Regions from separate parts of the Homo sapiens genome. Here regions 2, 3, 4, 5 and 6 are each reported to be linked to region 1. Evidence: microRNA targets listed by miRTarBase, many of them from high-throughput screens and not tested one by one. Region 1 holds a microRNA gene; each other region holds the end of a gene's coding sequence.

Region 1 (5,077 bases):
AAGTCTGCAGGGCAACACGCCAGCTACACTAAATGAGGTCTGCCTAGGAAGCAGTGGAAAAAAAATTTTGTGAACTCCTAAGGGTTATTCCTTTAAACTCTAAGATGCTATGGCTGGACTTTTTTTAGAGTAATTATATTTGTCTATTTCATGTTATGGTAGGAATTTGCCCTAAGGAAGTAGAACTAGTTTAGCTCAGAATGGCAATATTTCTTCTAAAACTTATTAGGAAACTAGAAGGAACGCTTTGTGGATGTAGTTTTCCTAAAGGTCATGCAGAACTTCCAGGTATTACAGATTTTGAAAGATGAATAATAGCCATTTTAGTGGTTATCTTTTTTTTTTTTTAATAGATGGAGTTGTCCAGGCTGGAGGGCAGTGGCATGATCTTGGCTTACTGCAACCTCCGCCTCCTGGGTTCAAGTGATTCTCCTGCTTCAGCCTCCTGAGTAGCTGGGATTACAGGCCCCTGCACCACACCCAGCTAATTTTTGTATTTTTAGTAGAGACGGGATTTCGCCATCTTGGCCAGGCTACTCTTGATCTCCTGACCTCAGGTGATCCACCCGCCTTGGCCTCCCAAAGAGCTGGGATTACAAGCATGAGCCGTCGTGCCCAGCTCATATCATTCTCAAAGGACTTTTGTAGCACACAGAATGGTTTCTAAATAATATTATCCATATCTTGACTAACACGGTGAAACCCCATCTCTACTAAAAATCCAAAAAATTAGCCGGGCGCGGTGGCGGGCGCCTGTAATCCCAGCTACTCAGGAGGCTGAGGCAGGAGAACGGCGAGAACCCGGGGGGCGGAGCTTGCAGTGAGCCGAGATAGCGCCACTGCAGTCCGGCCTGGGCGAAAGAGCGAGTACTCCGTCTCAAAAAATAATAATAATAATAATATCATCCATAATATTAGTTGATAGTCTCTTCATAATTCTAAATCCAGCATTTTTCAAAGCATTACCAATGAAGGAGAACTTTTAAGATGAAGCTAAATATAAAAAAAAAGTGAATTACTGCAAATTACTATACATAGTATAATTTGAAATTTTGGTAATATTGTCTAAGACAAATCATCCTTTTGGGATAGTTTTTTTCCATACTGTTCAAACTACCCTTCATCCTATAACGGCAGACATGGCCTAATGATTCTCATTTTTAATCAACAGTGTTGTCAGACATTTCAATGATTCTGAACATAATGTTATGACATTCAGGGCCAGAGAGCAAGCATTCTCTACTTGCTCTCAGCTGAAAGCAAAGAGGTTCTCAAGAGCTGCCAGCCTTTCTCCTTTATGCTCTGAAAGCCTCCTAAACTTGTCAGTTTACTTCCATTACCCTTTTATTGAAAACAATGAAAGAAAAAAAGTTACTACGGTGTTTATACTTTTAAAGTGAATGTCTTTTGTAATAAGGTAGAAATATCACAGAACCATCGAATGTTGGAATCAGAAGCATGTTTGGCATATCATCAAGTACAATAGCCACATCCTGCCTATGTGGAAAGCTGGAGGGGCTAAAGGACCTCTCAAAGCTACACATGTAGAGTCAGCAGCAGAGCAGAGCTTAAAGCAGCAAGTGACTCTTACGGCCATCAGTAATCACACTCTTGCTTAACATGCAAATGAATAAAGCTATTTTTATAAAATCCCTCCCCCCCCCATATATTGGCAGTAACTCTAAATTCTAGTCATTTTTTAACCATTACAGAATAAGATTAGAAGCATCAGTAGTTAATGGTGATAATAATTTCCATTTTATATGGGGTTTTATGGTTCACAAATATATTTTATAAAATAAGTTTCTAACATTTCATTTTCTTATATTGAGGGCTTTTAAAAGAAATAACCAAAACCTATTTTATTAAAATTTGATATTTAAAATTATAGTTGAGAATAGTGGAAGATTTTTCCCATTATCTTTGCTCTCCTGGATAGCAACCAGATAAATGACTTCCCAGAGAAATGCATAGAGTCATATAAGATAAAACGTCTTTTTTTCTCCATTTTACTCAGAGTTTGATGATGAACTATGACTGGATATTGAAATAATCATTCTTTTATCCTTTGTAGTAAGGCTTACTTTGTCCAGTGGCAACATGATCAGACAAGCAGCTCTCAGATGACATGTGACAATATTAAATTCAATCTTAGCAAGCAGCTTCTCAATTTCACACTTGTGGTAGCTGGATTAACCCAATTATTTTTTGGAGGTTAAGGGAAACTTTCACATTTGCAGAATACCATCCTTCAGAAACCGGAATGTAGGATTTTGTTATCTCAAAGAATTTTATGGAGATGGAAAGATCAGTTAGTATTAAATTTTAGCACACAATCAGATGAAGGGTTTAGGAAGAAGTAGATATGATTACCTAATAATTCACTTTGAGTTCTTCACTTTGAGCCTCAAAAATGTGTGAAACTTGGGACTTTTACTAAGCATATCTTTCAGGCAAAATATTTTCATTGTACCAGTTCCAAGCTCTTGGTTCTAACACAAAACCCCTGCTACACATACACACACATGCACTCACACACACACAGGCTACCTATATATACACCTGCTATGTGTGTGGATATGTATTTACACATACACATATCAGGTGTATACATACGTAGCATGTATATATACACATACACACACACGCACACAGGCACACACATACTTGTTACCTATATATGTATACATGCACATATCAGGTGTATGTAAATGTAACATGTATATGTACACACACGCACACAGGCACACACATACTTGTTACCTATATATGTATACATGCACATATCAGGTGTATGTAAATGTAACATGTATATGTACACACACGCACACAGGCACACACATACTTGTTACATATATAATTACACATGCACATATCAGGTGTATGTAAATGTAACATTTATATATACACACGCGCACACAGGCACACACATACTTGCTACATATATATACAGTCAGGTGCTGCATGATGACATTTTGCTCAAGAACAAATCACATACATGAGGGTGGTTCCATAGATTATAGTGGAGCTGAAAAACTCTAGTGGCATTGTTCTCATTGTGACATTAGTGCAATTACTTAATTTTTAAAACAAATTTAGTGTAACCTAAGTGTACAGTGTTTATAAAGCCTACAGTAATGCATAGTAACGTCTTAGGCCTTCACATTTGCTCACTGCTCATTCACAGATCCACCCAGAGCAACTTCTACTCCCACAAGTTCCATGAAAAGTGCCCTATACAGGGGTGGCAATTTTTTTTAATCTTTTATATCATATTTCGCTGTACCTTTTCTGTGTTTAGATATGTTTAGATATACAAATACCACTGCATTGTAATTGCCTACAGTGTTCAGTACAATAACATGCTATGCAGGTTTGTAGCTTAGAAGTAATAAGCTATACGACATAACCTAGTTGTTTAGGAGGCTACACAATGTGTTTGTGTTATGTGCACTCTATGATGTTCTCTCAACAATGAAGTCACCTAATGATGCATTTCTCAGAAAGCATCTCCATTATTAAATGGCACATGAACGTATTTGCTACATATATACATACTGGCTATAAACACACACACACACACACACACACTCACACACACCTGCTACAGTCCTTTCAAAGTATAAAAAAAGATACCAAAATGTGTTAGAGATTCGTTTGTAAAATGTAACTATTTTCGGACCAGATGGATTCACAGCCGAATTCTACCAGAGGTACAAGGAGGAACTGGTACCATTCCTTCTGAAACTATTCCAATCAATAGAAAAAGAGGGAAACCTCCCTAACTCATTTTATGAGGCCAGCATCATCCTGATACCAAAGCCAGGCAGAGACACAACCAAAAAAGAGAATTTTAGACCAATATCCTTGATGAACATTGATGCAAAAATCCTCAATAAAATACTGGCAACCCGAATCCAGCAGCACATCAAAAAGCTTATCCACCATGATCAAGTGGGCTTCATCCCTGGGATGCAAGGCTGGTTCAATATACGCAAATCAATAAATGTAATCCAGCGTATAAACAGAACCAAAGACAAAAACCACATGATTATCTCAATAGATGCAGAAAAGGCCTTTGACAAAATTCAACAACGCTTCATGCTAAAAACTCTCAATAAATTAGGTATTGATGGGATGTATCTCAAAATAATAAGAGCTATCTATGACAAACCCACAGCCAATATCATAATGAATGGGCAAAAACTGGAAGCATTCCCTTTGAAAACTGGCACAAGACAGGGATGCCCTCTCTCACCTCTCCTATTCAACATAGTGTTGGAAGTTCTGGCCAGGGCAATCAGGCAGGAGAAGGAAATAAAGGGTATTCAGTTAGGAAAAGAGGAAGTCAAACTGTCCCTGTTTGCAGACAACATGATTGTACATCTAGAAAACCCCATTGTCTCAGCCCAAAATCTCCTTAAGCTGATAAGCAACTTCAGCAAAGTTTCAGGATACAAAATCCATGTACAAAAATCACAAGCATTCTTATACACCAATAACAGACAGAGAGCCAAATCATGAGTGAACTCCCATTCACAATTGCTTCAAAGAGAATAAAATACTTAGGAATCCAACTTACAAGGGACGTGGAGGACCTCTTCAAGGAGAACTACAAACCACTGCTCAAGGAAATAAAAGAGGACACAAACAAATGGAAGAACATTCCATGCTCATGGGTAGGAAGAATCAGTATCGTGAAAATGGCCGTATTGCCCCAGGTAATTTATAGATTCAATGCCATCCCCATCAAGCTACCAATGACTTTCTTCACAGAATCGGAAACAACTCTTTAAAGTTCATATGGAAGCAAAAAAGAGCCCGCATCGCCAAGTCAATCCTAAGCCAAAAGAACAAAGCTGGAGGCATCATGCTACCTGACTTCAAACTATACTACAAGGCTACAGTAACCAAAACAGCATGGAACTGGTACCAAAATAGAGATATAGATCAATGGAACAGAATAGAGCCCTCAGAAATAACGCCGCATATCTACAACTATCTGATCTTTGACAAACCTGAGAAAAACAAGCAATGGGGAAAGGATTCCCTATTTAATAAATGGTGCTGGGAAAAC
Region 2 (5,063 bases), not on the chromosome of region 1:
GGCTGCTGCCTCCTCATCCTCAGCAGCCTCTGCTTCCCCGACTGGGCCTCAAGGGGCAGCAGAGCTGGCTGCCCACTCGTCCCTGCTGGGGGGCCCACAAGGACCTGGGGGCATGAGCGCCTTCACCCGGGTGAACCTCAGTCCTAACCGCAACCAGAGTGCCAAAGTGATCCGTGCAGACCCACAAGGGTGCCGGCGGAGGCATAGCTCCGAGACTTTCTCCTCAACACCCAGTGCCACCCGGGTGGGCAACACAGTGCCCTTTGGAGCGGGGGCAGCAGTAGGGGGCGGTGGCGGTAGCAGCAGCAGCAGCGAGGATGTGAAACGCCACAGCTCTGCTTCCTTTGAGAATGTGTGGCTGAGGCCTGGGGAGCTTGGGGGAGCCCCCAAGGAGCCAGCCAAACTGTGTGGGGCTGCTGGGGGTTTGGAGAATGGTCTTAACTACATAGACCTGGATTTGGTCAAGGACTTCAAACAGTGCCCTCAGGAGTGCACCCCTGAACCGCAGCCTCCCCCACCCCCACCCCCTCATCAACCCCTGGGCAGCGGTGAGAGCAGCTCCACCCGCCGCTCAAGTGAGGATTTAAGCGCCTATGCCAGCATCAGTTTCCAGAAGCAGCCAGAGGACCGTCAGTAGCTCAACTGGACATCACAGCAGGTGCGTTTCATGGTGACAAAGTCAGAAGACAAAACTGCTTTTAACCTTGTCCTTGAATTCTGTTCTTCGCCTCTGCCCCTTCCTGTTCTTTCCCACTGCTTCCTCAGGGAGAATGCACTTACATTCTCAGGGCACACAAGATGCTCACCCCACACTGACATCTGGCAGAGAGTCAAACAAACATGTAGGAGCAGCCACAGGAGGGCTTTTTCGTTTGAGAATTCCCAAGTGAAGTAGTTACTGCAGTATTTTTAAAACATATATCCTATGCCAGTTCTGCGTTTTGTAGAGTTCCTCCGTAAGAAGCTTGATTTGTTTGTTGAAGTTTTCTTTTCACTATATATTTAGGTCAGCCCCTGGAAGGGACAGTTCTACAAAAAATATTTGTTAACACAGGGGCTAAACCCTTCCTTATCTTAAACTATCTTAATAGTTTCTGGGAGCCCTTAAGGGTGATCTTATCAAGTTGTTCTCTGTACTTTTGTTCTGTGATTTCATAATACTAGGGCAACATAAACAGCAGCGGGAAGCATTGATTTCTATTCATCCTGCCCTAAAAAGATCAGGAGTAAGAGCTTTTTAGAAATATGTATTTAGAGAGAAGTACCTATCTATTTTGTGATCTCTCAAGAAAGTAATTATGGGTGACGTTCTCCTTTTGTTCATGTACCAGGATTTGTGAAATATTATTCACACACCGACCCACCATCCCACGGGCCTGGCCTCTCTTGTACAGGATATGCAGGAAACTCTGTATGTGTCTGGGACCCATTATTAAGAGTTATGGGAGTTCATCCTAGGATGTCTGCCTTATAGTTATCTCTTCTTGCACTGAGACATTACAGATATCATTTGGGGGCTACTATATATCTTCTGTAAAATTACTTTTATTTGTTGAGAAGAATGCATACTAAGTCAGGAACATGCCTTAATTTGTTTTGTTTTGCATTGAGTAGAAGGGCTAAACTGTATACCCTCCACTTTTAGGGTTATTTGCTGTGTGCCTTTAAGTTCAAAAGTAGACACCACAGTAAATGCTGAAAGTTGGCTTTAGGTCTTCTGTGGCTAATGCCGTATTAAAAATGAAAAACATTTGTAATAGGAAATTAGCCTGCCCTTCGTTCTGTTGATCCTGTTTTCTGGTGGTCATAATTGTGGGTAGAAGAGAGTACAGTTTGCAAATAATGTGATGAGTTGGCAATGCAGAAGTTTCCAGCATTTGGAAACACTTTACTCTGACAAACTGATTATCTTGTGAATTTTATCTATGCTCCACAGAATGAGCTTTTAAAAGCACTGATTTTTCTTAATTTGTGTCCATTCATAAGAAATTAATCTGTGCCCTGGTTTCCTATTGACAGGTATTTATTTATCATGTGTTCATAGTCTTCTTAATTCTGTTTCCAATATTTGATCCATATAATTCTCTATTTTATAGAACAAGAAAAAGGTATATGAACACTCAAATGAAGATTTTGGGTGATATGTTACAAAAAGCATTTATTTGATCAGTATTTACTTCAACATTTATTTTCATCATTCACTAGAAGAAAGATTTAATTGTGTATATCAACATCAGTAGTACAAATCTTGTTATATCAAATGATGTTTTTGGGAGTCAGAATCCCTCAACACTTTAAGCATTTGTATTATAAAGTGCCTCATTGGTAAAATAATGAGAATTTGAAGAAAACCAGCCCAGCAGAACTAAAATTTTGGTTTTAAAGGAGATAAAGAGAATAAGTTTTTCTTACTTGTCATCTTAATTTGTTTAGGTTTCTTTTTATAGAGTAGAATAAATGATGTTTGCTCTGAAGAGAATTGATGACCAACTAGAATTTTCATTTTTAAAAAGGGCTTTAAAATAAAATTCTCCTATGTGTTGGATGCATTAAAAAAACAAAAACTCTACAAAATTCTATCCTTAACCTTCTTTGGGAAAATAAAATATTCTGGAATAATCATATAATCCTATTTCTAATAATTCTGGAGTAACAATCGACCATGCTTTGCACAGTGCCAGGAAAATTCTACAATGCGTATTTGAGATGTTTGTGTTGGTGTTTAAAGTGAGGCACCAAATGCTACCTGGCACATTTACATCCTCAATTCTGCTTGCTTGCCTGTGCCCTGTTGAGTCCAAAGATGTTATTCTATAGCTATCTGAAACAGACAGAAGTCAGACCTGTGAGTGGCAAACAGCTTCTGCTCCGAATGTGTGTGCAAACATTATTTTCCTCACTTCCTCAGCAATTGCTGTCTTTGCTTCTTTTCCTCATTTCTCAGGTAAAACCTGAGACTCGGTGAAAGGAATAGAGGTATGATGAGGCGTGGGCTCTGTTGAAACATCTCGGCTTGTTTAAAATTTTTCATTGTCTGTTAAGAGGAGAACACTTGTGAAGCACTGAGCTCAGGAGCTCTACTTGTTGGAAGCCTGTCTGCTTTACCTGTAGTCCAGTGACCTTTTCTGCCTGCCCTTTCTCTTGCATAGCCTCTTAGTTCTGGCTTGCTCGTTTTCTAGTACTATCCCCTGCCATCCCTTTGTTTCCACCTCTTATTTCATGTTCCTGACATTATCCTTTTTTTCTTTTGCTCCTTTTCAGAATTTCGCAGTACTTGTGGCCCACTCTCTGCAGAGAGTAAATTGAGAGCCCAAGAAGCAGGGCAAAAAGAGCCTCTCAGACTCGGTCATAGCAGCCCTGCCACCTTTACCTGGCATCAAATTTATCTTTTAGTTTTGAAACTGCAGCTGACAAAGACACAGACCCCAGCCATGCCTTTTGGGTTCAGTTTTTTTGTTTTTGTCATTCTTTGTTATGCCCTCCCCCTTTAAAAGAAAAAAGAAAAAGAAAAAAAACAGAAAAAGACTCTTTCCATTTCTTTTTCATTCAGTTTCCTTTTTTGTGATGTCAAGGATTCCGTACCTCCAAGGTTGCCTCCCCTCCCTCCCCTTTCCCCAGCCCTGTGGCCTTTTTGGCTGGCGCAAACCCTCTCGGCCCTGGCACTTTCCCTTTTCCGGGTCACCTCCGCTTCCTGCATTCCTTCTCCTCCCTCTTCCGAGCCCCCTTTCGCCCGGGGTGGGGGAATCTGCAGCCAGACCGCCCTCGGGTCTCCCGCCCCCGCCCGTCTCGGGTCATCCAGGGCGGTGGGGCCCCTTCCCGGGCCGCGTGGTCGGCGCTGGCGGGCGAGGCCCCGCCCTCGGGCACAGCCGCGCGGCTCTGGGTCCCGGGCGGGCGGGGCGGTTGGGCGCTGATTGGCCCCCACCACAGCCAATCAGCATGTGAAACGGCTGAGCCGCGGCGGGCGCGGGGCGGGGCTCTCCGCGGGTCCCCTGGCGGTGGTGGCGGGCGGGCGTCCCTGGGCCGCTTTCTGCCACCCTGCCTGGCACCTCTTTCCCGCGGGTGCCCGCAGGCCGAGCCGCAGGCCCCCTCTGCACCGCGCCCGCCGACTGAGGACGTTGTGCCCTCAGCTGTATTCTTGCATTTGGATCAGAATCCTAAGAATGAAAAAGTCCAACCAGCCCACGGACGGGGGCCGGAAACACACACTTGCTCTTATTTTTAATTGAGAAAAATCCAGGCCGTAACCATGTGACGAGCCCCATTTTGTTTCCCTTCTCTCTTTACTACGGTTTACTACGAGGCCACGTTCCTTCGTCTTCCGGTCTCGAGATCCGCGAGCAGGAGGGAGTCCCGCACGTGGCTGCGGGCCTGCGGGCCAGGTGGGGTTGGCCCGCGATTCCTGCCCGCCCCCCTCAACCAAGGGAGGGAGAGAGACCTGCGAGTGCTGCGGATGCCATCGTTTTGGGTCATGGGGGGAGGGGGAATTCCTTTGGCTTGAAAGTGCCCTAGGCTCCATACACTTTACTGCAAAGCACCAGAGCTAGGTAAGAGCTGGGAAAACGCATCCTCCTGGGCTGTGAGGGAGCTCACAGCGAAATGAAAGACGGGACTGCAGCTTGCAGATCCTGAGAACCCGGTGTGACAAGGGTTTGGGTAGTGTGTTCCTTAAAGGCTTGGAGGAAATGCTGTGGCGTTCTCAGACACAGATTCATTTTTCCATCATTGACAGTCCCAGTGACAGCCCGTCAATTTAGGCTGGGCACATCGATTTTGAAAGCTTGCTAGATTTGTGTTGTGTACCCTCCAGTAACCAAAATTATGTGAGATATATTACTACATGGGATGGAAAATGTGTTCAGATTTGGCCTTTCTAAAATAAGGAAAATAAGAAAGAAAAGTGCTATGGGAGTATTTTCTCCTCCTCCTCCTTCCCTCTCAAATAAGCATTTCTCACCAGCCAACATCCCTCTTGCATCACTGAATCATAAGATCCCAGGGCAGCGCTTTTTCTGAGGGGCCAAGTGAAACATCACAGGTGGAAACGTACCAAGCAGGTGCAAATG
Region 3 (5,077 bases), not on the chromosome of region 1:
TTCAATCAATTTTTATTGAGCACATCCTACGCACAAGACACAATATTAGGTACAGAAAAGCTATAAAGATAAATGTGACACATTCTTTACCATTAATAATAATATATATTATCTAAAATTTAATTTGAGCTAATATATAACTGACAATGAAATATTTGGACCACCTAAAACAAGGATAAATTATTCTGTGACAAGTTTATATTCTTGCATTATGCAAAAATGATTCGAAAATAAACTATTTTTTTCCCAGAAATTGTATGAGCTATACATTGCTATGTAACAAATTGCCCCAAATTTAGCGGCGTACTACAACAAACACTTCTTATCTCATACAGTTTCTGAGGATGAGGAATCCAGAATGGTTTCCTTGGGTTTTCTGGCTGAAGGTCTCTCATGAAATTACGGTCAAGCTATTAGACAGGGCTGCAGTCATCTGAAGGCTTGACTGAGGCTGGAAGATCTACTTCTAAAATGGCTGTTGACAGGAGGCCTCAATTCCCTGCTGGCATTTGATAGAAGGTCTCAGTTCTTCATCATGTAGGTCTTTCCAGGGCTGCTCAGGACATGGCAGTTGACTTCCCCCAGAGCAAGTGGTCCAAGAGAGAGCAAGGAGGAAGCCACAGTGACTTTTATGACCTACTTCAAAGTCTCACAGTCTCTTCCATTTTCCTGTATTAAAAGTAAGTCCCTAATTGCTAAAAGAGTACATTTTTAAATGTTCTCACCACAAAGAAATTATAAGAGGTTATGGATATGTTAATTAGCTTGATTTAATAATTCCATAATGTATACATATATAATAATATAATATTGTACCCCATAAATACATACAATTATTATTTGTCAATTAAAAATAAAATAAAAAGACGTAAGTCACTAAGTCCAGCCCATTTTCAGGATGAGGAAGATTAAGCTTCATCTCTTCAAAGGAGAAGAATCAGACTTTATGGATATAAAACTACCACAGAAGTGATGTTAATGTCTCATTTGAATAATTGATTTGAAATTTTTTGCATTTGGTAGAACTCTGTGCTTGCATGTGCTTGTTACTTTTTTGTTCATAAGTTTTAAATAATAACTTTACTATTTCCTGATGTAAAAAGTAACAAATATAAACTATAGAACACTTAATACAGATAGGGAAGTTAGAAAAACATGAATCACTCATAATTCTACAATGCAGATATAGCCATTTTTAACATGTTTTTATTTCTTGTGTGTATATATATGCAAATATTAGTGTTCACACACACAAATACATATATATATACACACACATACATATATAATATATATGCCTTAAGTACATAATAAATATTTTGGAACATGTGTATGTGTATATTCTTATTTAGATATATAAGAATTTACCCCTGTAATTAAAATTACTTGGAAACAGAATTTTAATGGCTACATAACAATATACAAATAAATGTTTATTTCCCTCTTTTTTTTTTTTTAGAGACGGAGTCTTGCTCTGTCGTCCAGGCTGGAGAGCAGTGGCGCCATCTCGGCTCATGCAACCTCCGCCTCCCGGGTTCAAGCGATTCTCCTGCCTCAGCCTCCCGAGTAGCTGGCATTATAGGTGCCTGCCATTGCACCCGGCTCATTTTTTGTATTTTTAGTAGAGGCAGGGTTTCACCATGTTGGCCAGGCTGGTCTCGAAATCCCAACCTCAAGTGATCCACCTACCTTGGCCTCCTAAAGTGCTGGGATTACAGGCGTGAGCCACCGTCCATGGCCTATTTCCCTCTTTCATCTTTTAAAATAATTTTCTGAACATTTAGGCTTTTTATTTCCTTTTGTCACAATAAATAACAATATAAAACATATCTTTGCAGAATGTCTTTGTATCTCTGGTTATTTTCATATGATAGGATCTTACAAGTAGAATTATAGGATAAACAGACTACTAAATTGCCTTCAAGAAAAATTATATCTATTTGTATTTTTACCAGAAGTTTGAGTCCCCATCTCATGGTGATTTATTGAGTATTTAATGTTATCATTTCTTAATCTTTGCTAATAGGCCAAAATGTGTATTTATTTATTTATTTTACTTTGTACTTCGGTGGCATGTCAGTTATTATTTTACTGTCTCTCAGCTCCACATTCACTGTTGGTTGCCCGCTCCGTGAAAATAGATATAGACTCTTGAAATGTTTCCTTTGCAGCTTGCATGATGGCATACTTTGTCAGTAGAGGGCGCTGGAGACACACTGCAAGAGGAAGGGGTCTTTCCTGATTCCTCCAGGCTGACAGGCCAGGCTACTGGAGAGCAGGCTTTTTTCCTTCACTACTTTGCCTGGAGTGGTTTCTGCAGTGCTGGTTGCCTGTAGGGTGCAGCTTTCTCCAGCATTTCTCCACTTGCTTCTCTAGCTTTTGCTTTGGGCAGTGGTGGTATAACCTGGAGCCACAGTGCAAGCCGGTCCTGAAGCTCCAATTGCTGCTCTCCATTTCTTCTCTTCAGCTGGGTGCACACTCATACAGAGGACCCTGCTGGGCTGGCCAACTACTGAGCCACTTGCCTGAGCTTTGTCTTGTGCAGTCTCGTCACACAAAGTTATGCTAGGTTCCTGCAAAGTAGGTCCCTCCGGCTCCTAATCCCAACAGTGCCTCGAACAGAACCCGTGACTCCTTCTTTGTGCTTACCCTTTGGCAAAGCCCCAAGTCCCTCTGCATATCTGCCCACCTGCCTCAGCTGGTCCACACCTAGGGGGTTGGCTGTACCAGCTTGTCCAGTATCTGTGGTCCTGCTCTGGCCTGGGCAAGCCAGCAAACTTCTCTCCAGTGGGCTGCAACCACACCTTCTCCAGTGAATTCTGAAACCCTCATTCCTGCCTTTCCTTGTTAGGATTCTTTCCCTCAGCCTTAGGGTACCTTCTCTTTTCATCTTTATTATTATTCTCCTATCATAGCTTAATTATTATTTATATTAAACTTTCCCTGTTTAAATTACTACCTTGTTTCTGTCTTCTGATTGATACAGACTAACACAGTTGTTCACTGTTAAGATACGACTTTTTTCATATACTTAGTGGCCATTTGCATTCTCTCTTCTGTGATTTTTCTTTTCATATCTACCTTTTTTTTCTATGTAAGACTTGGTTCTTCTCTTATACATTTCAGTCTATTGAAGACTAACCTTTTGTCATGTTCATGGCAGGTACATGACACTAGTTTTTTATAAGTATGTTGAATTTTAACTATTACATTTGCCTCATTTAAGTGAGATGAGACTATTTTCTTATTAATATTGACAGGTGAAAGAATAGCGATGCAAGCCTCTGGTTTACTCAGTAAGAGAGACTTCTTAGGCTTGAAAAGGCCATAGCACACTTTCACCTTCAACCAGTTTAGGTTTGGTAATACTGAGAAGTAATGCCTTTGTCTTAAAAATGTTTCATATTTTAATATTGTTAATCTTCCAGTTGGGTTTACTGCATATAATCTCATTCCTTAGTACATGTAATATGATCAATTTACTACAATGCTTATGAGGAATGCAAATGGAATTAGTTTACAGAATGAAAGAATGTTGCATATAATTCCATTTTAATACAGAATTTATAAATAAAATCATAGTTTATACTTATAGCATTTCTTCATTTTTAGTGTTTTTTTTTCAAGTGGGTTAAACAGATCTGTGAGTACCTTGAGAGTTGTCATGTAGAATAAGATGCTAAGAGGGCAGAGTTTGGGATTCCCTATGTAACTTCAGCTACAACAGCCTTGCTTTATCCATTGTATTCATTCAGCAACAAATAGGTATTTGTGGGCCAAGTCTTACTTTAGCCGATGTAATATGTCTATGTGATATAAACATTTTTTTGAAAAATAAATAAAGAAAAAGTTCAATTAACTTAAAAAAGAGCTTAAGAAAAGCTTTGAACTGATGAAAGGTCTTTCATCAGCAGAAGAGAGAGAATAAAAGGGCTGGGGGGAGGTTCAGAAAATTTCAATTAGGATTTCTTAACAGAGTCCATAATTTTTCCTTTCCAAAGGCCAGACAGCTCTGATGTTACAGATAGTCAGAAGTCAACAGGCCATTTAAGATAGTCCTAGATTTTATGAAAATGCCAGAGTTTTCAAGAAGCTACTGTCACTATCAGGTAGATTCCTTGATGGTGTAAGACTGTATTTCTTTTTCATTCCAAGAACTGGCAGCTTCTTTTTTCTGAGTCATTTCTGAATCCATTGATTATGTTTCAGTTCTCTTGAGAGTCCAAGCTAAATGAAGTTTAAACTGCTTATCTGAAGACACCATTTAAATTTGAGTTCATTACATGGTTTACTATAAAAGCTATTTGGCATATGCAGTATTCAAGCTTATTTCAGTTACTGAAACTAAACTCAAACTCATTTTGTCCAACTGTGAACCCTAATTAACCTCATCACTTCAAAAAGAAATGAGCTTTTTTTGACATTCAATTTTCTACGATTCAAGTCTCATATATGTTCGTATAAATGCAAGTACAGAACTTATGCATTCATCAAAGAGTAATATCTCTGAGTTTTTTGAAATGTTTTAGCAATAGAAGCTTGTACTGCTAAACTGTTGTCTCTGTTTTTATTACTAGTTTATTTTGAAGACATTTCAGTATAATCGCCTTTTCTTTATTGAATCTGAAAATGAGAAGAAGAAAGACTATTAAAAATTGGACATATTTTGTGCATTGGACATATTAAAGAACGGAGTATCCAATGTGCATGCTCTTGACTTACTTTGTTACTATTCTTTGAATCTCTCTTTTCTCTTCTTCATTTAATCTTTGAAGAATGGATTCCAAGAGAGAAAAGTGAAAGTTAATGTACTGAGCCACCTAAGAAAGAAGAAGAAGAAAAAAAAAAGAAAGCAGAACAATTATGCAAGAGGTGCTGAGTCAGGAGGGAAGCAAAAAACAGATTCAGGGTGATGGTATTCATACATCACTGCTAATTTCTTCTGCATCTTTATCCATGAGGAAAATGCGAGCATTCTTTTCAGAAGGTCCCTGTAGGAGCCTCTGCAGTAGCGGAATGTCTGTCTTCTTTAGTCGTCTTTGTTCTGCAGTGAAAACAAGAATCAACCACAATCAGA
Region 4 (5,068 bases), not on the chromosome of region 1:
ATTTACGTAACATAAAGCATAATGTTTTATTTATTAAAGATGTCTAATTGTAAAAGTGCAAAATAATTTTTTCAGGTGGCATTTCTTGAGTAGTAAAATTGCTAATTTAGAATAATGGTTTAGAGATTCTTAAATTATGCACAAGAACCAGAAATTGTAAAGGGCATTAAGTGCTTTAATTATAAGATGACCTTGAACACAGTCCTTATCAGTTTTCCTTTTTGAACATGTTTTGTTGCTTTTTTGTTTTTTCCTCTAAAACTATAGGTATAAATTACTAAGGTATTCCAAGGAGCGTCAGTACATCGATGGACTGAACAATTTAATATATAGGCCAAAAATACTGGTTGATAGGTTGTATACAAACATATCTGTAAACCTCATGCCAGAGTTAGCTCCAATCGAAGACTATTAAAAGAAGTGGCTGTCGTGGCAAGGTAGACCACAATGCTGGATCATAAACTTGGAGCGCGCTCTTAGTGGAGGTCAGTGATTGGCTGTGTCACAGTGCCCTTTTCTCTGAGAAGAGCCAGCAGTCCACAGTGTTTACAGAGTGGGACTATATACAGTCACCCTTCTCTCACCCGTCCTCCCTGCTCTGAGACACACCCCTGTGGCGAGCACCGCAGAAACGGGAAGCCACTACTTAAGATCGGAAGTTAAGAGAGCTCCCTCCGAAGAGAAAATTTTTATACTAAAATCTATAATTTAATTCAAGAGAATGCTTTTATTTCCGTTTAAACATATTTTGTATATATGTGATATAAATTAATGTGTGCAAATTGTTTAAAAATTAGATGTGTTGCAGTTTTGCATGTAATCGGTTATACCTTTATTGGACTTTTATAGACATTTTTTATTTGCATGAAAAAAACTCACTAAATTTACATCACTAAACAAAGGTTAACCCTTGTGTGAAATGAAGGAACTGTCAATAATTGACAGCCAACTAATACAGTAAACTGTTATACTAGTTTTGAGCTTTAGACCTCAGCCTTTTGTGTGGAAGAAGTCACAGCTTTCTTAGGCTTTAAAGGAAAAGAAGGAAGGACTTAAATAGCTTTTCTTCCTACCGGGATTACCTATGTTTTTCCTTGCTTGCAATCTCATCTGATTTTGCTAGAAATCACAACCATATTGTTTATGCATATTGCATGAGTATTACCAAGAAAAATCTTAAAAGTTGTGATGTGACATGATATAAAGGATCTCTTTATGTTAAATGTCTTTCCATGTACCTCTGGTGTGTCAGGGATTTTGTGCCTCAAAAAATGTTTCCAAGGTTGTGTGTTTATACTGTGTATTTTTTTTAAATTCACGGTGAACAGCACTTTTATTATTTCCAGTTCAGAAGAGCCAAAAAAAAGTATCTTCATTTAAAAAGAAATCAAGTCAGTTTTTTTAAAAGAATGATCTATGGAAGAAAACCCAATAGTACTTATAATATACAAATGAATTATACTATTAGATAAGAATTAAATATTCTATTTTTATAAAGATAAATACTTAGTAGATAAAAACAAATTTTAAGTTTAGTTTTCAGACATAGAATTTCACTTTTGGAGGGGACCCTTGAATGTTAGTTTCATTCAAACTATATTTTGTTTTTTTCACTTTTAAGAGATTATATCTCTGGTGTTAATTACTAAAATTTTCTTTCTAAAAGTATAATTTAATAGAATTATCTTAAAATACATGATCAGTATTCAGTGCGCTGATATTATAATGTCTTCTATATGTAGTATCTAAAAGCATAATTTAATAGCATTGTCTTAAAATACGTGATGAGTTATTTGGTGCACTGATGCCATAATGTCTTCTATATGTAATATCTTACATGTTTGCATGAGTGTCAGGGCTTTGTCCAGTTATCTTCATATGACTGTTCTCTGAAAAAAGGTCTTACTACCTGATATCAAGTACATATCTTAATTTTGGATGAATTTTTCCACAGTAAAGCCGAACAGTATTCTTTTTTGAAAATTAGCAATTATAAAGATTGTTTAAAATATCTTGATATTTTCACAAATTTTAAACAAAAAATTAAATATCTATAAAGTGAATGTTCAACAACAATGATGAGCAATAGAAATCTATATATGAGAAACGTTTGGATAATATTTGCCTCAAGGATTGTTTACCTAAAACAGAACTATGGTTATTTATCTCAGATTGTAAGTTTTATTTTGAAGTGTCATTTTTATGGCAATATTGATAACACAAATGACCACAAACTAAATCATAAAATAATTGAATCCTTACACTTTGAGAAAATGGATAGCTTCTGTGTTATGATACCAAACAAAATATTTTCATATTTATTTCTTAGAACTATTTCCAAAATATTTATATTTCAGTTTTTTTATGGTACTCGAAAAATCAAACCTTCTGAAAATTATGATATTTGTACTTCATTTGTGTATTAGTTCATTTTCTGTTTCTATTACATAGTTTTTAAAGTCAATGAAAGAGATTGAGAATGTTAACATTTGTTGATCAATGTGGAGCTGTCCACATTCGGTATCTTTTCATTTTTATATATATTTTACAGTTTCAAGAAAACTTAGTACTACTAGTATCTGCCTTATTTTCTTAAGTCTGATGTTAATTTTTGTTTCAGGAGTGAGATATAAACATTTTGCTTTTTTTCAGTTTTGAAATATAGTTTGTCATCCTGTGAAAACCACCTCGTTTGCTTTTTGTTTGTTTGTTTTGCTTTTTTAGTGTAGACCTAAAATTATTTTTGCCTATAAACAGTGAACTTAATATGTTTCTGTGAGAGTGACAGAGCTGTGCCCGTTTATCTTCATTGTATTAATTATTACATAAAGATTAACAAATACATTGCAAATGCAAATTATAGGATGTTTGGAGGATTTATTAATGAGCATGTATTGATTGCCTATTCCATATCCAGTGCAATGCTAGGTATGTCTATGGAAGGAGTATTATTACTTCATTTCTAAACAAATGAAGTCAAGCAAATTGAGATCTTTCTGAAATTATGAAGACATCTTCTGATAACTTATCTGTTGTATTTCCTAGTCTCAAAGTCAAGAAACCCGTATATGTGGACCTAGGGCTAATAGGAGGTCCCTATGGCACTAACTGGGAAAATTACATGGTGCTTTTCAACTACAGAAAGAAGTAATGACTAATGGGCCTGTCTGTAGAGAAGAAAAGGAGAAGAGTACACATTTGCTGGAACTATATATAATTCACAGTGGAGATAGTTAATTCTTTGCTAAAACTAGGGTTTTATGAGTATTTTTTAAATCTACATTTAAGTTTTTGTTTTTGTGAAAAGTTATTCAGTAAGAAAACTTTATAATATTAAGTAGATACAGTTATGTATTAAAAATTTCCTTATATACCCTTTTGCCAGCCAAGATACTGATATTTTAAAACAAAATGGAAAAATGTCCAATACAATATTCTCTTTCTGGAGGCTTCCTACAAGTGAAAGCAGATTTTGTCATTTTATTTGGCCTTTGCTTGTCTTTGATATATTTCTTTATGTGTTTTTCAAATACATACTGTTGTAGATTTATTGTCTTGTATTTGCAAGTATGCCGGTTGAGAGAACTAAAATGGTTATAGTATTGTTTATCAGAAAGAGGAAGTGTACTTAAGATTATTTTATTTATTTAGATGAAAGGCTTCTACATAAATGCACTGAAATAAATGCTAGTAATTTCTTGTATCCCACTTCTTTTTTTGCTTCTCATGGAAATGTTTGTACTTTTTTATCATTGTCTTTTATGAAATATAATGTTCTAAAGACTTTGTGTGAAGATGTAATTATTTTCCTCTCAGGAACTTTTTTGGGTTACCTGGGATTTTTGTTTGTTTGTTATCCTAAATTTTAAATGAATTATTGATGAATATCTTGGTTGACAATAGGGTTGCAATATAAGCATAAGGTAACCACAGCTTAAATACAGGTGGAGATCACCTTATTCCTTTTATCTCAAAAAGTAGTATTTAAGTATTTTTCATTAGTACAACAATTAGTAATCTATTATATCAAGATAAATATTTAAGAATTCATTTTAGCATAAATTTTCTTTTTCCTGCACAACTTCAATAAACTAAGCTGGTGTGTTATGCTCAATTTACTACTTGTTTTTCAGGTATCGATGATTTTTAAGGCAAAGAGCCAAATTTCAAAAATACCTAGGGACTAGATTTGTATTTGAGACTAGATTGTAAGATCATGAGTTTTATCAACTTACTAGTTGTGAAATGAGTTGTAATTACTCTATGTATAATATGATCTATAGGGATATTGTCACTGCATGTCATAACTAAAACCAATCATTAAAATCATAATCATTTAAAGCCGTGAAATTTAGTCAGCTTAGTCTGCCCCACTATGGTACTAATGTGCCCTCTGGTGAAAACATAGTAACTCCATTTAATGATCATATATATATGTGTGTGTGTGTGTATGTGTGTGTATATATGATCATATATACCTGATATTCTATATACACACACACACTGTACACACACACACTTTTTGTGCTATCTTTAGACAAAGATTTAAGGTGGTTGGGTATGTTCTGGACCAAAATTTTATTTAGAGAAGTCTGTTCTTAAGGAGCATGTACTGTATTGCTCTTGATTTAAGCGACTTCAGAAAAGTGATTTGCCGCTCAACTATGCAATGAAAAGGAAAAAAAAACGGTGTGAAAAATAAAACTTGCATCTTTCTCAACACATTCCGCTAACAGATTTTGGTTGCATGCCCTTGCTAATACAGTCTTCCCAATTTTATCAGTTTAAGTATGTGCTCTGGAGGATCTTGAGAGGTATCAGACATTACCTACCCTCAAGGAGTTTACATCCTCTCTGTGTAAAACTGATGTAGCAGAAATACCTGAAGAATCACATGCTATCAAATGAGGGGCTCATTTCTGTCCTTTGCAAACGTTGATTGTCTGTTTAACTAATTGAGCATCTTTGCAGGAGCAGCTTTTCTCCAGCACGTATTTCTCAGCTGTAAACATGTACTTCAGAAGGAGATGTTGAGATAATTGTTCTTCTGCAATAGACCTTAAAAATT
Region 5 (5,077 bases), not on the chromosome of region 1:
ATTTAGGAAAAAAAACTCCCTTGCACCCTCTTCCCCCTGCAATAAGGAAAAGAAAGAGCCCAGTCCTGTTCATCTAATGTGGTTCAGAATGTCAGAATTATTTCCATTCCTCTTTTACAGAGCAACAGCCTTCGGCATTCTCAATGGATTATGCAAATTTGGCGCCATCCTGGGAAACACCATCTTTGCTTCTTTTGTTGGGATAACCAAAGTGGTCCCCATCCTTCTGGCTGCTGCTTCTCTGGTTGGGGGTGGCCTGATTGCCCTTCGACTGCCAGAGACTCGAGAACAGGTCCTGATGTGAACAACCTATGGGAAAAGGAAAGGTCGAGAGAATCTTGTCCAGGACACTGAAATGCATCCACACTTCCTGCCTATCACGGTCCGGAGGACACCTTGGATAGCACGGGAGGAGAAGTTGACTTTGTGACCCCTAGTTTAGGACCCACTTCAGCTGTCAATATGTTTGTAACTCAGGTGACTGATTTGGGGGTGCCCTGAGCCACCCTTAGAATCACAGAGCTGCGTGTTTAACTTCAAGTCTTCCCAGTCCAAGGCAGGGAGAGGATTCTCCAGTGAGTGCACACACTATGCGAGGAGCAAGCATTTCTCTAAGTCAAGTGCAAGGACTTAACTTGCGTTTGAAAAGGAATTAGAGGGTCAGAAACACCCAGGTTCCTCCAGAAAGCTCCTTGGAGCCCAACAACTTAACAAATCAACTTGGCTGGAAGTTAGAGTCATTATATGAAGATTGGGCTTGAAGTATATATTTTTGCATTTAAAAGTATCACCTATCATATTTTCCACTCGAAAATTGACATAGTAGCATTGAGGATACTCTGATCTAGAAAGCCAAGTATTTGAGCAACATCTATAGAGATCTACTTTTCTCCTATGTCTCCTAGGCTTTCCATGATAATTAGGTAATACATTTAAGAAGGATATTTATTTCTGTTTTGCTCTATTCAAAGAAACGGAATGGGATAGTTATTCTGTAAACTAAGTTTGTATATAACTTTATTTGGGTTTAATTTCCACAACTGGTATCTGCAAATATTGCCAGCATTTTAGCCATATTTTGGGAGAACTTGGTGTTTGAGGTCCCAGGAAATGAGGTCTGATCAAATGAAATGCAAGCACAATTTCTTACAGCCATTTAACTTTCTGTTGGGAGGATGAATTAACAAACTCACATTGTGCAGTCTGCTTAATCCAGGCACTTTTCTTTGTGCAGGTGTAGTGAGTAGTTACTTCTCTCCCTTACACAGATGACTTGTGAAACTCAAGCTCACCATCTTCAGTGCTGGCATTTTACTTTGCCACTACCCAAAAACAATGTGAGATGTGTTCAGTGGCCTCTGGTACTCTTTGCAGGCAAGAATCAAACAACATGGGGACTGAGGGAAGGATGGGGAAGTGTAGCCACAGTTCTTCCAAATGTAAATACTTTTTGTTTGTTCTAGTGGTAAAATGCAAATGCAATCCATATTTGTTAGGATGGTCAGGTCTCATGAGAAATCTATGCTATGTGTCCAGAGCTTTTGAAACAGAGTCCATTGGAGTGGGAGTTAGGGAGTGTAGTGGATGCCAAATATGTTTTTCTTCAGTGCTTAAGAGAACTGTTTCCTGAAGTCCAGCTTTGAACATAAACAGGGGTGTGGGTTGGGGGAGGAGCTTAGGACAAACCTCTCTGATGAAGGTCAGCAATAGACTGAAGTCTTGACTGCATGGAAGAGGAAAAACATCAGAACTGTCTGACAATGGAGGGGACAGTGAGCTACGCACAACTGCCAGCGGAGGTGAACTTGCACCTGCCCAGGCCGGATGAACATCAGCCTGCAAGAACTAGTTGTTTGAGTTGATTTGCAGTGCTCTCAATGGGCAAGTGCCACATTTTCCCTGGCAGAGATCTCCAAAAATTTAAAACAGAATAATAATGGCTATATCGAGTGTTTTCTCAGTATTGGAGAAATGCTTAGGTCCTATGATAGCTTCGGGACATCTTTCTGTAATTTTCCTCAATTAACGGGTTGGTAGGGGTAAATCTTATGACACCTTTCCACCGTCGATTTGAGATCAGTTTTAATGGTTAAAATGTTTACTCTCCTTCTGTCAACCCTCACCTTTTTATTTACACCCCTCCCTTTTTTTCTGTACAGGGAGAGAAGACATATTGACTCTGACTGGACACCCTGATTCCTCCAAATATATATACCACTGTGTATTAATCTTTCTCTCAGTGTTTTATAGGAGTACTAACATTTATTGCTCTGTCAATAATGAAAGGCTCGATGTAATATAGCTGTAATTTACTTTCCATATGAATACAGTGGCTAGGTTCATAAAAGAGAATTGTGTGAGTCTGGGATTACCACATCTAAAACATTATTCTTTAATGGGATAATACAATTCATTGAGCAGCTACCACTTAAAAAACTTGCAGGACAGTTAGAGCCTGCATTTCTAGTTAAGATGGATCTTGTAAATTTAAAATTGGATTAACATTGGAGTGCTGGGGTGGCTGCAATAATTTGGGGGCTAACTCCATTTGGTTTCCAAGATCTCACTTCTGCATTATCTTTATGGCTCTTTAAACCAGCCACCTAGCCAATCAAGGGCAATTCCCATCTCATCCATCACTCAGGTCTTTGTAAAGGGTGCAGCCAAGCTCTGCAGACTTTTGCAGGATTGTCTAGCCTGAGTACCGGGCTACTTCTTAAATGCCGTCACTCCTGCTGAGATAAATGCGTCTTTAAAAATAGTCTCTGTGGCAGGTCACTGGGGGACAATGTACAGCATTCTGGCCATCCACTTCTTTTTCACTTCATGTTCTACCCCAAGAGACTCCCGATGTCGGCTGTGGAGGGTTAAAGGGATGAGGCTTTCCTTTGTTTAGCAAATCTGTTCACAGTTCTTGATGATGTATTTTATGATGCCCAGCTTGGAAATAGTTGCTTTCCATAGTCTCAACTGTATTGTGTCATCTCCTGATGCTGATTTTTGATCTTTTGTTTTATTAAAAATAATTAGTGAAAGAGGTGTGCCTATCTGTGAAGTTTGTAGTACATCATCCTGAGGTCATGTAACAAGTAAACCCCAACCCAGCGTTCCCTCCTACGTTGTGTTAGTTCATTAAAACTAAATAATAAAAATAACTGTAAGAAAACCTTAAGGACTGGGGTTAGAGATTATTTTCAGGCACTAAGGTCTCTTCTGTATTCCAAAATTGATTGAATCAGCTGGGAGAAACATTGAGAATCGCTTCCTTCAACTTTTATTTTGCAACATGGGGACCTTGAGAGGTTAAACGATGTGGCCCAGATTACATGTAATGTGAGGAGTGGGCGAGAAGGCCTAAGGTGATGCTCTCATGACAGTTCTGGGGAAGCCTGCAGTTTGGGGAATGGGACAATGTGACAAATACTCGCCATTCCCTGAGACCATTCATTGACTATTCCCTTGATGGCTTTACTATAATGAGAGGAAGCATCAGTTTAAACATAAAAAGATTAGTATTTATCCATCCATTTATTCATTCAGCAAATCCTTATTGAGCCCTGACCATGGGCCAGTCTCTCTGCCAAGCCCTGGGGACACAGTGATGAAAAAACTGGCCACAGTTTCTGCTTCCTGCCTCATTCCACTTGCAGTGAGCGGATATTAAATTGGCCATAAACACCGAGTACGATGACCTTACAATCCGCAAACTGCACCTTTCATGTGTAAAAGGATTGCTACTACTTTACTTGTCAGCTGTGGATTTCCAAATGTGGTGGCTCCCTCTTATTTTTTTTTCTTTGAGGAGTGTACCAATTTTTTATCTTTATAAACCAGGTAAGGGAAATGATGCCCTTGCCCATTTTCTACAGACCTAATCGATTTTTACCTAATCAGTTTTACAGAAAGGGTTACATGGAAGAAGAGATAGGGGCCAGGAATGCAAGAGGGACATTGGTGAGTGGGGTAAGAATCCCCGTAGCCCTGGGAAAGGTGTCTCCACTTCCACATCTGGCTTTTCTAGGGGGCATCTGTGCTAACTGACCTGGGATTATGTTGGATGGCATATGACTGCAAATTCAAAGAAACCAATTTATAATAAGTTTATAGTAAGTTAAAGGTTTGTTTTACTCTCATGTGAAGGGAATCTGGAGGAAGGAAAGCCAGGGCTGGAGTGGCTGCCTTTGATCATGGGAGCACACTCCTTCTGCCCGATCATTGGGAGCACACTCCTTCTGCCTGATCGTTGGGAGCACACTCCTGCCTGATCATGGGCGCACGTTCCTTCTGCCTGATCGTTGGGAGCACACTCCTTCTGCCTGATCATGGGAGCACACTCCTTCTGCCTGATCATTGGGAGCACGCTCCTTCTGCCTGATCGTTGGGAGCACACTCTTTCTGCCTGATCGTTGGGAGCACACCCCTTCTGCCTGATCATTGGGAGCACACTCCTTCTGCCTGATCATGGGCACACGCTCCTTCTGCCCGATCATGGGCACACGCTCCTTCTGCCCGATCGTTGGGAGCACACTCCTTCTGCCCAATCATTGGGCTCACGCTCCTTCTGCCCGATCGCTGGGCTCACGCTCCTTCTGCCCGATCTTGGGCGCACGCTCCTTCTGCCCGATCGTTGGGCGCACGCTCCTTCTGCCCGATCGTTGGGCGCATGCTCCTTCTGCCCGATCGTTGGGAGCACGCTCATTCTGCCCGATTGTTGGGAGCACGCTCCTTCTGCCCGATCGTTGGGCGCACGCTCCTTCTGCCCGATCGTTGGGCGCACGCTTCTTCTGCCTGATCGTTGGGCGCACGCTCCTTCTGCCTGATCGTTGGGCGCACGCTCCTTCTGCCTGATCGTTGGGAGCACGCTCCTTCTGCCTGATTGTTGGAAGCACGCTCCTTCTGCCTTCAGACTCCTTGATTTTTAGTGCAGTTTCCATCACTGAGGCTGCCTCATGGGCTGAGATGGCTGTTGAAGCACTGAACCTCACATCCACAATTCAGGCAGGAAGCAGAAGGAAGGGCAATGGGCAAAGGGGCTGTGCCTTGCAGCCGATCCAGCCTCCCTTTGCTGCAGAGGAGG
Region 6 (5,077 bases), not on the chromosome of region 1:
TGACTCTGGTTAGTTATGTGGCCGTGGCCCAGTATGTGATTGCATATTGATGTTGAATGAGACACAAATTTAACCCTCAAGGAGCTTATACTTAAACAGAAAAGGCAGAGTCAGGGGTTGGAGAGATAGTTTGGCTTCAAGGAGGAAGCACTATTTAAGCAAAAGCTTAAAGAACAGATTAAGTTTTCAGGCATAGAAGGAGGTGGAGTGACATAACCAGAAGCCCCAGCTGAGTCATACCTGGAAGACAGACAAAAGTTTATATCAGATGGATTGAAGGGTATGTAGGAGAAGATACGTACCTGGCAGGGAGACGCCACAAATCCTAAGATTGTTTTCCCATGGCAAGCCTTATCTATTTCAGGACAGATGTGCTGATCCCTGAGATACCTTCAAATATGGTAAACTCTACTGCACAATTTGTGGTAGTGCGGGACTGTGTTCACGCTCTCTTCTGGCAAAAAAAAAGTCTTAAAAAATGAAAAGGAAGGGTATATGGGAGAAAATTAGGCAGTACAGGTGAGTAGGGAGAAGATCCTGCAAGGCCTTACAGGTTAGTCTTTGGAGTTTGCATTTCATTCTAGGCAATGCTTAGGAGTAGAAGACCAGGATATGTATTGGGAGACTTTGGAGATTCTATAGGTAAGAAAGGAGCCTGAACTAGAATTGTGGCCTTTAGAACATCCAGGAAGGGAACAGGGCAGGATGCACCTGCAAAGAGGACTCTGTGGGTTCGGGGAGAAGCCATCTCAGTGACAATGTCCATCGCAATCCTGGTTCTTTTGGTGTGTGTGTGTGGTATGTTTAGGCTCTGAATTTAGTTTTGGACTTTCTCCACTTACTGGCTGTGTGCCTCACCCTAAAACTCAATTTTTTCTTCTCTACAGTGGGAATAACAAATGTTCTGGTTGTGAAGAGTGCATCTGAAGTGCTTACACGGCGTCTGGCATATGCAGAGAAATTAGCTTACAAATGTTATTTTTCTGACTTCTCGCCTCCACTCCACTTACCCTGTCAGGAAAAAATAATTCACAAGGAATATCAAAACAATGATGCACCCTAGGAGTATCCAAGTATCTTAACTGAGTTATCTCATTCTGGTATAGTGGCAGAGTTATAACTAAAGAGTGCCAGAAACCCACGCTTTAAACATCCTGCAGTGCACACCTCGGTCTCGTCAGTAAGGACTTCACTTTCTTCTGAACTGGGGCTTGTGAAAGCTGGCCTGAAAAGCCTGATTCAAGGAGATCAGGCTGTGTCTCTGACTGGAGCAGCTACACTCCCCATCTGTAATTTGATTTGTTCTATTGCAGATGATGTACTGGGCAGAGGTGAGTGTGGATTGGTGAAAATCTGTTTTTATGACTGGCAAAGCAGTGCAGGGGGGTCTTTCACTGATAAGAAGCATCATCAGTAGGGTTTGTCCCTGATGCCTTTACAACAGCATCTGAGCACCTCTCAAGTTTTTCCAGGCCAGCTCCAGTTTCAGTGAGGAGAGTGTGGGCTTTCTATTCCCCAAATATTCTTACTACAGTTAATATGTAGGTTACTGCCCCAGCCCAACTGCAGGTTCCCAGATGTGAGTTCCATGTAGGCAGAAACTGTCCAGTTCTTGAAATTGAATTACTTCCTTGTGTATGTGTTTTTTTCCTACTTAAAGCTCCTCGGGATGCTTCCTCTCAAAAGTCTTTGAAGAATAAGAGGTTAAGCTAAGACAACCTGAATCAATTTTTTTTTTTTTGTCAAATGCGATTGAAATTATCCCCATAATTCAATAAAATAGCTTTTTCCCTTCTTTCTTTTTACTTTGTTGGAAACTATGCAACAGAAACAAAGTAAGAAGACTCTACCTTAATTTTAAAGGTAACTCTTACATAAAGAAGAAAGTCATTATGCCAGGCCAGGGGGAGAGTGGAAAGGGGAAATTTAGAGAATAGAAACAAACTTAAGCATCTTGTAAATTTTGAGTGAATTGTAAACACATAATGAATGAATGAGAAGGGCCAGCCAGGAGTCTGTGAAATGGTCCAGTTGGGAAATGCCTAATGCATAAACACAAATCTTGGTGACAGGTAGGTTAGTTATCTGTGAACTTTCTAAAGATTAAATAAACAATAATAGGATTTTGTTAATGTGCCAAAGTGAGTTTAAACCATGAAAGACACGATGCAAATATGCAAGTACCTTTAATTGGGCATAATAAAAAGTAGTGAGGTATGGTTAAAATAACATTTAGAACAAGAGAGAAGTTAGGGAGAATTTTTGTCTAAAAAGCCAAAAAGTGATAGTTGATTGGTGATTTTGTTGTTATCAGGAGAGAGAATTTTCTTAATGTAATAAGTTAGGTACTTTGGCAAGTGAAATGGGTTCTAGGCCAATTGCAAGTCCTTAGGATTCCCTGGCAGCTAGAAACCTTGGCACTCCCAAAAGACAGCTTCAGTTAAAATGACAGATGAACATGAGTCTTCAAGTCAAAACTACTGTTGTACCACGTCCATTGAATGTTTGGTGATTCAAGTCTCTGTTATTCAAGAACTGATTCTGTTTTTCCTCCTGTCAAAACCTTGGTTGATTTTGACTGTAGTAGCACATCTGGCAGGAATATGACAGAAAAAAATTAAGTTAAAAATATAATTTCTATTCCCCTATTTTTTCTGTAAAAGGCTTTATGGGGAAGAAGGGAAGAAGGTTGACATGAGTAGAGATGATACTTGCCTCTGGATGACCCAGTTGGGTTCTCCTTTGACTGCCATTCACCACAGTTGACCTCATTAGGCTCCGAAGTATGAGAAGAGCTTCATTGCCAAGTTAGTGAAAGAAGCAGATGATTTACTTTTGCTCGAGTGGGTCTGTAGACCTCGGGAGGTTAGCCATTTCTCTTAGAGTTTGGTGTATGTATTAAGATACAGCATGTATGTAGGTATATATAATACATATATGTGTGTATACATATATATATATTTCTGGTTTGTTTAATATCTTTTAAAAAATTTTAATGGAATTTTTTGAACATGTACAAAAGAGAAAGAATCCTACGATGAACTCCCATGTATCCATCATCCAGCCTCAATAGTGATCAACCCATAGCATATTGTGGTTCATGTTGACACTCATCCACCTCTTTCCTTCCCCATCTCTCCCCATTATTTTGAGACGAATGAGATCCTGGGATTTCGTGAAAATATTATGAATATCTTATTTGTGAGAACAAGATTTCCCAAAGCATGATCCCCAGAAACCTAGTCCTGCAAAACTACTGCAAAAATAAAGTGTTCTAATCTCCAAACGTTTTAGGCAAGTGTTAGATATCATCTCTCTTTTTTGAAGAATTGTCCCATACGGGAATACATTAATGGTTCTTCACCTAAGAACTAATTTAAAGCAGTATCTTCCAAACTTAATTGAGTCTGGAATTCTTTATTTCCAGGAGAGTCTATTTACATTGTGAGGAAGAAATGTTAAGAGACAGTATTTACCACATTTGCCAGGCACTCACTATGTGTCAGGTTTTCTGTTAAATGCTTTTTATGGGCATTACTTCATTTAATCCTTATAAGAATCCTATGAGGTGAGATTGACAGATGAACATATTACCCCATTTTCAGATGAAGAAATTGAAGCTCAGAAATAGAAAATAACTTGGTAAAGGTCATAGCAGGCGCAAGATTTTCTCCCAGGTCTGAATGACTCTTGAATCTGAGTTCCCAACCCTCATGCTATGCAGTTGGAGAAGGGGTATTAACAATATCTGATGACATGAGCATCCTCTGGTGGCTTTAATGTATTCCACTTTTTGATTTGAAAGGCACTGGGAAGTTTATCTAAGACAATAGAGGAGAGAATAATCTAAAAGGTACAAAAGTTGTTTTGTACCTTCTATCATCTAAAAGGTACAAAACAATTTTTTTTCTACGGAAGTAGAAAATATTATTAATCAATAATGTTGTACTCCTATTTTCTTATGCTAACAAGGGAAACAAAAATACAACAGAACATACACAATCAGAGTCATTAGGCTAAGAACTTTGTTTAGTAATATTTTCTATTTCCATAGAAAAATTGTTTTGTGCTTTGTAGATTATTTTCACCTCTATTGGCTTAAACTTCCCAATGCCTTTCAAAAAAAATTAGGTTAAGCATTTTTTTTTAATTTAGCAAATAAGACACAGAAAAGATATATATCTTGCCAGAGGTTTGAAGTTCATTACAGAGCTGGAATCAGAATGTTGATATTTATGTCCAGGGCAATTTTTTTTAGCTGCACCATGAATATTGCATTGACAAATAGGATATTCCCCCAACTCCTGGCTTGTTCTGGTTGGTGTACACTGGGGAACCAAAGAACTGGGAGGGAAGGGAGACTGCCTTAATCCAGAGTTACTTGATAGTGGAGAGTCCATTAGTGTTAATATTGTTTTCAGGATTTTTCAGAGGCAAGGTCTAGTGCTTATCTTAGCATTTATATCATGTTTTGTATATTTTCAGGTAGGAAAGGAAAATCTAAAGATTTAGTTTTCTTAGGACAAACTGTGAACTACCATCATAGTCCATTGCTTCTTTACACGTGGAAAACCCTGCCAGTGCTCATTGTGATATGCAGTCATCCCCAGGCTGTTTTGGAAGCTCCAGTTCATGGCCCAACAGTGATGGGAGGGGCTCTGTGGAACCATTCAGGGATTCCTCAGTGAAGGTATCCATGATATAGCTGGGAAGAGGACCAAATGGTGAGGTGGAAGAGTGGCTCTTTACCATCTATCTCACATTCCTTGTCAAGGTCAATGTATTATTTTCTAGATGACATGTTTGGTATATTATTCCCTGAGTAAAAAAAAAAAAATATGCAAAAATTAAAATACAGATGCAATTATTTTCAAAGATATTATGGGAAGAAGGATAGTTGTGTAATAGCTACAGAGAATTAAGCACCAGCATTATTAGAGCATTAGCAAGGCAAACTAAACACCTCTGATTAACTGGGCATTTATTCTGGCTGAGACAAACTTGCATGGAGATAGGGAACATTTGGATGTACGGCTGCAAATAATGAGTGTTATCACTTCGTTAAAGTAGGTCAAGG

The links. The annotated mature microRNA hsa-miR-4789-5p reads GUAUACACCUGAUAUGUGUAUG and lies in region 1 at 2,591-2,612, opposite strand. An mRNA with a match to its seed (bases 2 to 7 or 8) in the 3' UTR can be bound and repressed. Matches are read on the target gene's strand: a 7mer-m8 pairs with bases 2 to 8, a 7mer-A1 pairs with bases 2 to 7 and ends in A, and an 8mer does both.
Region 2: the mRNA of IRS1 is a reported target of hsa-miR-4789-5p. The part of its 3' UTR that is shown has no 7-base or 8-base seed match.
Region 3: the mRNA of RASSF6 is a reported target of hsa-miR-4789-5p. Seed matches in the 3' UTR shown: 7mer-A1 at 3,114-3,120 and 7mer-m8 at 1,267-1,273.
Region 4: the mRNA of B4GALT6 is a reported target of hsa-miR-4789-5p. The part of its 3' UTR that is shown has no 7-base or 8-base seed match.
Region 5: miRTarBase lists SV2B as a target of hsa-miR-4789-5p. The part of its 3' UTR that is shown has no 7-base or 8-base seed match.
Region 6: the mRNA of OPN5 is a reported target of hsa-miR-4789-5p. Seed matches in the 3' UTR shown: 7mer-m8 at 2,942-2,948.

The regions. Positions count from the first base shown.
Region 1 is chr3:175,367,087-175,372,163 of GRCh38, reverse strand. MIR4789 (microRNA 4789) reads right to left here and starts at 2,624; the gene lies at 2,543-2,624. All of the region lies in intron 5 of NAALADL2 (N-acetylated alpha-linked acidic dipeptidase like 2), which reads right to left.
Region 2 is chr2:226,790,584-226,795,646 of GRCh38, reverse strand. It overlaps IRS1 (insulin receptor substrate 1), which reads left to right. Exons shown (of 2, transcript NM_005544.3): 1 at 1-658. The coding sequence ends at 637. Among named protein-coding and RNA genes, the nearest start is that of IRS1, 6.7 kb to the left of the region's middle. RefSeq lists a silencer at 3,559-4,248.
Region 3 is chr4:73,571,688-73,576,764 of GRCh38, forward strand. RASSF6 (Ras association domain family member 6) reads right to left here. Exons shown (of 11, transcript NM_177532.5): 9 at 4,926-5,044; 10 at 4,723-4,820; 11 at 1-4,623. The coding sequence ends at 4,548. Among named protein-coding and RNA genes, the nearest start is that of RASSF6, 46 kb to the right of the region's middle.
Region 4 is chr18:31,620,961-31,626,028 of GRCh38, reverse strand. B4GALT6 (beta-1,4-galactosyltransferase 6) reads left to right here. Exons shown (of 9, transcript NM_004775.5): 9 at 268-3,783. The coding sequence ends at 415. Among named protein-coding and RNA genes, the nearest start is that of TTR, 32 kb to the right of the region's middle.
Region 5 is chr15:91,292,249-91,297,325 of GRCh38, forward strand. It overlaps SV2B (synaptic vesicle glycoprotein 2B), which reads left to right. Exons shown (of 13, transcript NM_001323032.3): 13 at 121-5,077. The coding sequence ends at 304. Among named protein-coding and RNA genes, the nearest start is that of CRAT37, 170 kb to the right of the region's middle.
Region 6 is chr6:47,823,096-47,828,172 of GRCh38, forward strand. OPN5 (opsin 5) reads left to right here. Exons shown (of 7, transcript NM_181744.4): 7 at 888-3,286. The coding sequence ends at 896. It also overlaps the pseudogene RNU1-105P. Among named protein-coding and RNA genes, the nearest start is that of OPN5, 44 kb to the left of the region's middle.